Linked DNA regions of Homo sapiens: region 2 is linked to region 1. Evidence: fine-mapped expression QTL. A gene starts in region 1. The other region holds a variant in brackets. All regions are shown on one strand. Distances are between the middles of the regions.

Evidence for each region. PIP is the estimated chance that this variant, and not a neighbour inherited with it, causes the effect. A credible set is the group of variants that fine-mapping cannot tell apart.
Region 2: its variant is the best candidate, but not a certain one, in a credible set for the expression of SUSD4 in whole blood (TOPMed, PIP 0.71).

What each region holds. Positions count from the first base shown.
Region 1 is chr1:223,362,337-223,366,730 of GRCh38, forward strand. It overlaps SUSD4 (sushi domain containing 4), which reads right to left and starts at 1,840. Exons shown (of 9, transcript NM_017982.4): 1 at 1,721-1,840; 2 at 942-1,124. The coding sequence starts at 1,089.
Region 2 is chr1:223,302,293-223,306,686 of GRCh38, forward strand. All of the region lies in intron 2 of SUSD4 (sushi domain containing 4), which reads right to left. Among named protein-coding and RNA genes, the nearest start is that of SUSD4, 60 kb to the right of the region's middle. The variant C/G (reference allele first, on the strand shown) is at 1,882.

The DNA of each region.
Region 1 (4,394 bases):
GCTTTTCAACCAAAGATAATTTATTTATATATTAACAGTATCTCAGCTCCTTTTAACGTCCACATCAGCAAGCTCTAGAGAACGTTTGCAATGGACAGGAATGATGGACAGCAATGAGCAGTGGAGGCAGGGAGACTAGGCTCTCAAATTCAGACAGGAACTCCATCTGTCTTCCTCTACCACAACTAAAAGATACCCCTCCCCCAGAACCAAATATGTTATAGATTAGCCGCCCACGGAGGCTGAGGCTATCAATTTTATTTCAGCTAACTTCTACTTCATAGAAGAGCAACTGACTTTATTCCCTGAAATCATACCTCGATGAGCAAAGCAATCTGTCAGAGGCACACCTGAAAGAATACCTCTGCACCTCCTCCACGCCCCCAACATACACATACATGCTGCACACACAGGGGAAGGGAAAGTTAACTTTCAAATAAACCTGCCCCGCAGCCAGTCTGACCACGTTTCCAGACCCTTCACATTCTCAAAGGTGGTTCTTAAACTCTTGCTTAAATCCAGAGGCTGAAATCTGACCTCTATCTGCTGAAGGCATTGGCAAGAGGTCCACAAATACACCACTCCCCACTGCCCCCACCCCCCACCCCTCCCCCCCCCGCCCCCGCTTCCTTGGCCAAAGTGGGAATAATGGGCCAGGCTTTATTGTCTTTCCTTGGGAGAAGCCAGGCCCGGAGGCTGGTGGGAAGCTCCAGACAGAATGTGGGTGTGTGAATCTGTGCGGGCTCCACATGGGAATTTTCAGGGAACTCCAGCGGTTTCGGAGAAGGGCGGCCATAGGCTGGGACGCAGGCACCCTCGCGTTGTCAGATCCTCCTGAAGTCTGGGTGTATGGGGGAGGGGTGCAGGGCTGTCCTGGCAGCTAGGCTCTTTCTCCCCTCTGGGCCATCCCCAGGCCCTCCCACCACAGCTGGGTCACTCACCGCCCGTGAGCTGTGCAGGGCCGAAGCACAGCGCCAGCTGAAACCACAGGATCACGGCCAAGAGTCTCTGGGGGGACTGAGGTTGCTGCTGCTGCTGCTGCTGCTCTAGAAATCCATCTCCATTGCTCGGGTTCATTCCATGATACATCTTTCATCCACAGAGGGCATCCAGCTTGCAAGAGTCTGCAACCAGAAGCGGAACACCACAATAAGCCAGTCTGTCCGGGCTCGGGGGCCACGCTCCCCCTCCTCCGCTCTGGGACCCGGCGCCTCGGCTTCCCAGGCTCCATCCTGGTTCCTCCCCCGCGCGGCCCCCGCCCCCTTTCCCACGGCGAGGTCCCCCGCCTTCCCCCGAGCCGGGTGCACTGAGTAACAGCCGCCGTGGGATGCTGCGCGTGCTGGGGGATGGAGGACAGGAGGGAGGGCAGGGGTTAGCGCACATTGGCTCCGCGCCGGTCCCCGGGATTCAGCAGCTGTGCCCACCACAGGAAAGTCTAGAGCCTCCCCGCGTCTCGGGGCCGCGAAGACACTTTTCCCTGGGCCTATACATTTCACTCTGGGAATCTCACAATGTGGCACCGTCTCCCCCAGCTACTTCTCTGGTTTTCCTCGGGATTGGGATCGATCCTACTGCCCCAGTCCCCAGTGAGATTTCTCTGCGCTGTCAAAAAAAAAAAAAAAATTCTCCCTTGGGGAGCTGCACCAGGCACCAACTCCCCCTCCCCGGCCTGCGCGCGCCTCCTCGGAATGGAAGACCCTTCCGGGACTGTCGGTCTTACCTGTGGGTCTCATGCATGCAGCTTCCTTCCCTCCTCCGCCTCCTCCCCCCGCCAGTCTAACCCGCATCTGTGCGCGACCTCTGCTGCCGCCGCTGCGCGAGCGAGCGAGACGGAAGCTTCGGCGGCGGCGCTCGGCTCCAGCTCCCCCGCCCGCGCGCTCCCTCCCCAGGCGCCCCCGAGCGGGCGGGTGTTGGGGGAGGACGGGAGCCCGGCCGCGCGCCCCCGCGGAGGCGCCCGCGCGCCCGCTACCTGAACTCGCGAGCGCGCGGCGGCGGCGGCGCGGAGAGAGGGAGTGGGTGGGGACGGGGTGAGTGGGGGGGCGGGGACGGGGCGAGGGGTGCGCGGGCGCGCGAGCACGCGCCTCTGCCAACCCAGCCGGCGCCGCGGCGTGGCCGGAGACTGGCGAGGGCGGGGACGGGGAAAGGGGCCCGCCGCCGCGACCAATGGGAAGCCCGCGCGCCTGCACCTGTCGGGGCGCGAGGCGCCGGCGGCCGGTCTTGCACACGCACGCAGCTCGGTCGCCCCTTCCCCGGCGCTGGACTGCAGCCCCTGCCCCGGCTGCGCGCCAGCTCAGGTGCCCGCCCCGGCCTCCGCGCGGCCTCTGGTGCCCCCAGCCCGCGGCGCGGCGCGGGAGAGCGCTCCGCCCTAGAACTACCGCCGCGGCGGTGGCTGCAGACCCGGGGCGAGTGCGCGGCCGGCAGCTCCCAACCCCAGAACTCTCGCCACAGACCCGGTTAACTTGAGCACCGCCAATTGCCCGAGTCTCTTAATTTCCCGCGTTAACCCCTCCCCGCTCCCATCTCCGCCGAAGCTCTGCGCGTCCCCAGGGAGCCCGAAGGACCATCTGAGGCGGCTGAGAGACACTCTCCCCCTCCCCCACACCCTTGGTATTTTCCCTCTGCCAGCCGCAGGTGTTGCGAGTGAGGACCCCTGTCCGGTCTTGGAGATGCGCGGGGCCCTCGGAGCCTTGGCCTGGGAGGCGCTCCCGGGGGCGGGGAGGCGGGGGTAGCGGGTGATTGGTGACACGCAGAAGGTTGGGTACCTGGAGGAGGGGAGGCTTCCGGGGTCGTAGATGGGAAGCCAAGGGGGTCGGTGGTAATTGCCCTCCCAGCCCCAAGTGGAGAGAGTTGGCCTGGTCGGTCCCCTGTCTCTGCGCCGATTCTGGTGTCGGAGCTCAGCCCGCAGTGGTTGCAGCTCTCACTCGCCGCCGGCTCTGATCGCCCGCGGTCGGTTTCAAGATAGGGAAGCCCACATTCCAGCCACAGTGATTAAGAGGTGTCAGCTAATGAGGTGGCGTCCACCGGCAGCGCTTTAGAGCCAGTGACACTCCATGATTCTGTAGCAATTTGTGGATATGAAAACTATGTTCCTGATACAGCTACTAAATCATCCTTTGCTTCTATCGACTTTCCCAAAATCTCACATACTGATGGTAGTTGGGAAATTACAGCTTTTATACTGTGTCAGCTCTTACTGGGAGTAATTTTAACACATTCTTTCAGGATAGATTAGCTTTTAGTAGATAAGTCAAGCTCCGTTATTTTGTTTTTTGCTTTTGCGTGTGTGTGAAATTGAGATGGCAGCTTTGCACAAAATAAACAAGATGTTGACTAGCACAAGTCCAGTTTTGCTACAGCTTGTACTTTGGGACCCCAAAATCTTAGTAGGGGACCATCCACCTTCCCAAGGTCCTGTGACTGTCCTCTACAGTTTGTATATTTATTCCATTTTTCTTTCTTAGTAAATTTTCTAAATCTTTTTAAATATCCACCAAATCAACAACGGTCAGAAATATTTGTTGACCATGCACATGTTCTTAACAATTATAAGAGATATATCTAAGTGCCATTGAAATCTGTTCTTTGGCTGGAGTACAATCTAATTTTAACAGAGAATGTTGGGACTGAAAGGAACATTCAAGTTTATCTGATCCAAACATGGGATCTATGCTTGAGTTTCCTCTCTGACATTTCTAATAAGTGGTCATTCAGCCTCACTGAATACTCATCAAGGTAGCCTGTTTATATTTGCCAGCAGGTCTCTTAGAAAAGTCTTTCTTATATTGAACTGAAATCTACTTCCCTGAAACCTTTACCCACTGATTCTGGCTCTCCTCTGTGGGCCCACGCAGCTAAATAGAATTCCTCTTTCTTAAGAGAGCATCTCATGGCTTTGGAGATGGCTTCGTGTTCCCTTGAGTCTTCTCTTCTCTGGGTCACGCATAGCCATTTCCTTCAGTGCGACGATTCCCAGACTTTTCACCAGCCTGTGGCCTTTCTCTGACCCAGTTTCTCAATGATATCCACCCCCAGCAATCAAAGTTTGTTTCCAGAAAGAGGCCCTACTTTCCCTCTGTGGGTTCTGACCAGTACAGGCCGGTACTGTTGCTTTCTGTATTTTAAACAACTTGCTTCTATTAATTCAGCTGAAGAAGACAAGCATTTGGAGGGCAACTACAGCATAACATATTGTTATTATTATTATTATTTTTAATTATTGTTATACTTTAAGTTTTAGGGTACACGTGCACAATGTGCACGTTAGTTACATATGTATACACGTGCCATGCTGGTGCGCTACACCAACTCGTCATCTAGCATTAGGTATATCTCCCAATGCTATCTCTCCCCGCCCCCCACCCCACAACAGTCCCCAGAGTGTGATGTTCCCCTTC
Region 2 (4,394 bases), 60 kb before region 1:
ATGTCTTTATAGCAGTGTGAGAACAGACTAATACAGACCTTAACTCATAAATGAACATGTCCAGTGATAGCCTAACTTATCCAGGGTAAGACAAATGCCCAGCAACTATTTGAGCTAATATTGTATCTAGACCAAGGCATCAGCACAACTGTACTTCAGGCTGGTCCGTGCCCTTGCCACCAATGTCCATCCTGACATTGCTTCCAGGTGTGTGCCTGCACCAACAACAGATGGAGGACTCCTCCTGAGCCTGAGTCTAGAGAAGTTCTACATGTTCTGGAGATCCACCCTGAGCCAAGGTCAGGCTCAAACATTCTGAGGGCCCCCTGCCCCAATGATAGGTAGCTCAAGGACTGCCAAACATTTTCCAGAAAATGTTAGAAAGACTGACTAACCCGGACCCCAGGGCTGCCTGGGAATACCTCAACTGTCAAAGAGATGGAGCAGAAGAAAAGCACATCCAAACTAACCTGCCTCTGGAGGAGATGCCCGCGTGGGCCAGGAGAATAAGAGAAGGTCCCAGAACCAGCAAGCACTAGAAATAGCAGGAGATACAGACACACTGTGAAAATTACAACTAACATTAATAAGGAAACGTGATTGCTTTATAAAAATTCATCACTTTGCTTAAGTCTAGGAGTTTCAGACCAGCCTCGGCAACACAACAAGACCACATCTCTAAAAAAACAAATAAATAAAATTAAAATTATCTGGGCATGGTGGTATGCTCCTATAGTCCTAGCTACTCAGGAGGCTGAAGTGGGAAGATCACTTGAGCCCAGGAGTTCGAGGCTATAGTGAGCTACGGTGTGATTGTGCCACTATACCCAAGCCTGGGCAACAGAGCAAGACCCTATCTCAAAAACACCCCCAAAATCATTGATAACACATATGTCCATAAGAAGATCATTATTAAGTATTCCTTGACCTCTGTTCCAGCCTAAACAATCTCTGTTTGGGAAAACTTCAGCTCTTGGTTTTTAAAAAGAAAAGGGAAAGAGAGAAAATAATTTTAAAAAATAGATATGAAGAAAGAAAAATTATAATCTGTTTATATATTCACTCCATCAACAAACAGTGCTGGGCACTGGGGGAAGGAGCGGACAGGCATTCATTCAACCAACAATGGGAACCTGAGTCTTCCAAAGAGTGAGCTTACATCTAGGACATTCAATAGTTTTTGACCTGCAAATTGTGACCTTACAGGACATTCAATAGTTTTTGACCTGCAAATTGTGACCTTATAGTAGTATTGCAGGATCTGGCCAGCAGCCCGCAATGCAATGGGGCTCTTTCCTTGTTCCCAGGTGGATCGGCAGGTCGAGAAATAATAGACATACACAAGATAGTGAAAGCTGGGTCCAGGAGGGTCACCACCTTCTGGTCCCATGAGCCGCCAATGTACTGGATATGCCAGCATTTATTATTAAGTTTAGTGAGGGCAGGGGAAGGTTAGTGAGGGATTTAGGGTCATTTGATTATGAGGTGAGATGGTCACATGGGGATGAAGTAATTCTTTAACATAACATCTGTATGCAGTACAGTATACAGAGATAAGAATTTACAATATAGTGTGTGCATCAGTAATTTCTAACAGAGCCTTAAAACAGAAACACAGTCTTTCTATAACCTATGATTAGCAAGATATTAATCAGCAGTAACAGTTGCAGCAAAAGCTGGTTACAAACAATCCATAGAAACAGGATGTGAAGCTAGACAACCAGTTAGACTAGAAATTCTCAGAAGGGAGTATGTCTTAACCCTAAAGAGGCCTAGAAGAGCCGTGGCAAGATGAGGGCGTTTATAGGCCTGTCTTATCCATATGAACAGGCGCCCCTCATGCGTCCGTTTATAGGCTCTCCACAAGGGTCGCATTCCATT[C/G]CCAGAGCTATGAACATCTGCTTTTCTGGGATAGGAATCTTGGTGATGTTAAACCTCCCTGACTTCAGGTCCGTTCACAGGCTCTCTGCAGGGGGAAGCACATCACATGCTGTTGGCTCATTCTGGCAGTCCAACCTGGCATTGTCTTTACACAATCCTGCATGCAATTTTGTATTTACAATAATCAGAAGCATTTCATCTTTTATTCTGTAGCAATAGTTTCAGGGGGTCTCCCTACATAGTAGGTCCTGAAATCAATTTTAAGGGTCTTGACCAGCACCCTTTAGAAATGAAGTGGAACAGAAAAGAAAAGTCCATACACACCCTGCATGGTAACGGTGAGTATTGTTTTGTGTGGTTTTACTAGTTTTATTTGTGCATACAGGCTAGTTTGCAATGTATATTCCAGTGGGTCACAGTCAAAAAGGTTTGAAAAACACTACTTTCAATACACTCCACCTTGTCATGATACTCAAAAACATACGTACTTTCAATAATGTAGCTGGTGCTTATAGGCACAGGTTGTAGAGTGAGAATGTATACTTTGAATCCCGACTCTGCCATCCTCTAGCTGTGTAACTCTGGGTAAGTTCCTTAACCTCTCTGTGTCTCAGGTTTCCATATATATATATATATATATATATATATATATATATATATATATATATATATATATATATATATGCTATGTGATTAATATTCAACCAGTTCCCCGAAGAATGAAAACATATTGCTTCATACAGAGGCAATTCTCTAAATTCCTAGAGCCATGTTAATATCTGAAAATATTCAAGCCTATTCTTTCTCCTAACTTTTGCTAGAATAAAGTGTCTTTGATGATTTTGATGATGACAATTGAACTTAGGAGCAATAACAAATATTTCTAAATAGAGTCCTTCTCTTGGCCACAAGGTCAAGCTATGAAACAGTTGATGGTAAGCCACAAACCTCTAGAGAATTAAAGTGATTTCTTCAAGAGCCAGGCTTGCAGGGGAAATCTAAGGGCCGGCAGCCTTTCATGCACAGACAGCTCAGCTCTGGCCTTTGTTCTAAGAGACAGCAGCCAGCTCCTGAGGGAAGCTCTCCACTGGTCTCTTTGGGGGTGTGCAATCAAGCTTCAAAGAACCCCCTGATTTGGGCACAGGGAAGTGCATGTTTCTGGGCACCCATGAGACTAAGCAAAAGCAAAACCCAACCACCAAATGGGAACACCAAGGATTCTAAGATTTATGGGGAAAGAGCTCAGAGCAAAAAAGGAGGCTGAAGACAAATTTTCCAATAAGAGACAATACAAAAAATTCATCAAAGAAAATCAAAGGTTCCCAAATTAATTTTCTTGTTTGTGAATTTAGTGCTATGTCATTCCTTAATTCAGTGTATTGTCAGTCATATATTTAAGAGGTGGGAGGGGAAGCTGATTACTGTTTACCATTTATTAGGCAAAATAGATTTTTCACTGCAAAAGCAGTACCCCTTGGGAAATACAACAAAAGAAAACCAGAAAGCAAGACTGGGCTAGTTAGTATAGTCATACTTCTGCCATATAGCACGATATACTATTTATTATAGCAAATTTATACCAACAAGGCACACTTAAACCTAGTTTTTTGAAGACATGGGAATGAGTTGGGGGATGCAGAATTCATCCATGTGGGCTAAAGGCTTAGTATGCAGATTCTATTACCCAGAAACTACATTGAACACTGCACTCATGATTGTAAACACAGTATCAACTCTGAATATTTGGATGCTAATCAAATTAGGTAACTCTTGCCTAGAAATAGTGAGAATGTTTTAATGTTTCAAGAAATATTCAGAGATGAATATAAAGTCGGCTATGTCTGAACAAGTAAACGTCACAAAAATAAGTCTTAATAGCATAATTTAGACTTGATTAAAATGGATAAAGACCACAGATGTGGAAGTCATTGCAGTCCCCATTTGATGCCAGAACTGATATTTTCCCCTCTCTTGATTTAATTCGCTTTGATTACCCAATTATTCCTAAATCCTTTCACTCAGTTTCAGCTCCAATAAAACTGATAACAATGCTAACTCATAATGTGATTTTCACTCCAGTCTCATGAAACTGCTCTATAAAAGCATGCCCAGCAACTTCACAAAATTCTTCCAGATTGTGGTATTATATCATGGGAAAACAGAATAAACCTTCATCTATTCAAAATCAAGCAAGCACAGAAAACCACTCATCAGGAAAATCTGAGGATTCACTTCATCAACAGGAAGATGGTGGCAGGGAAGTCTTGCATTTGTAAGTTTTAAGATTATCAATTGTCGAAACATTTGAAGAAGGCATGGGTAATTTTTTTGTTTTTGAGATAGGGTCTCACTCTGTCACCCAGGCTGGAGTGCAGTGGCACAATCTCAGCTCACTGCAGCCTCTACCTCCTAGGCTCAAGCGATCCTCACACCTCATCCTCTTGAGTAGCTGGGACTACAGGTGTGTGCCACCATGCCTGGATAATTTTTTATGTTTTTGGTAGAGACAGAAT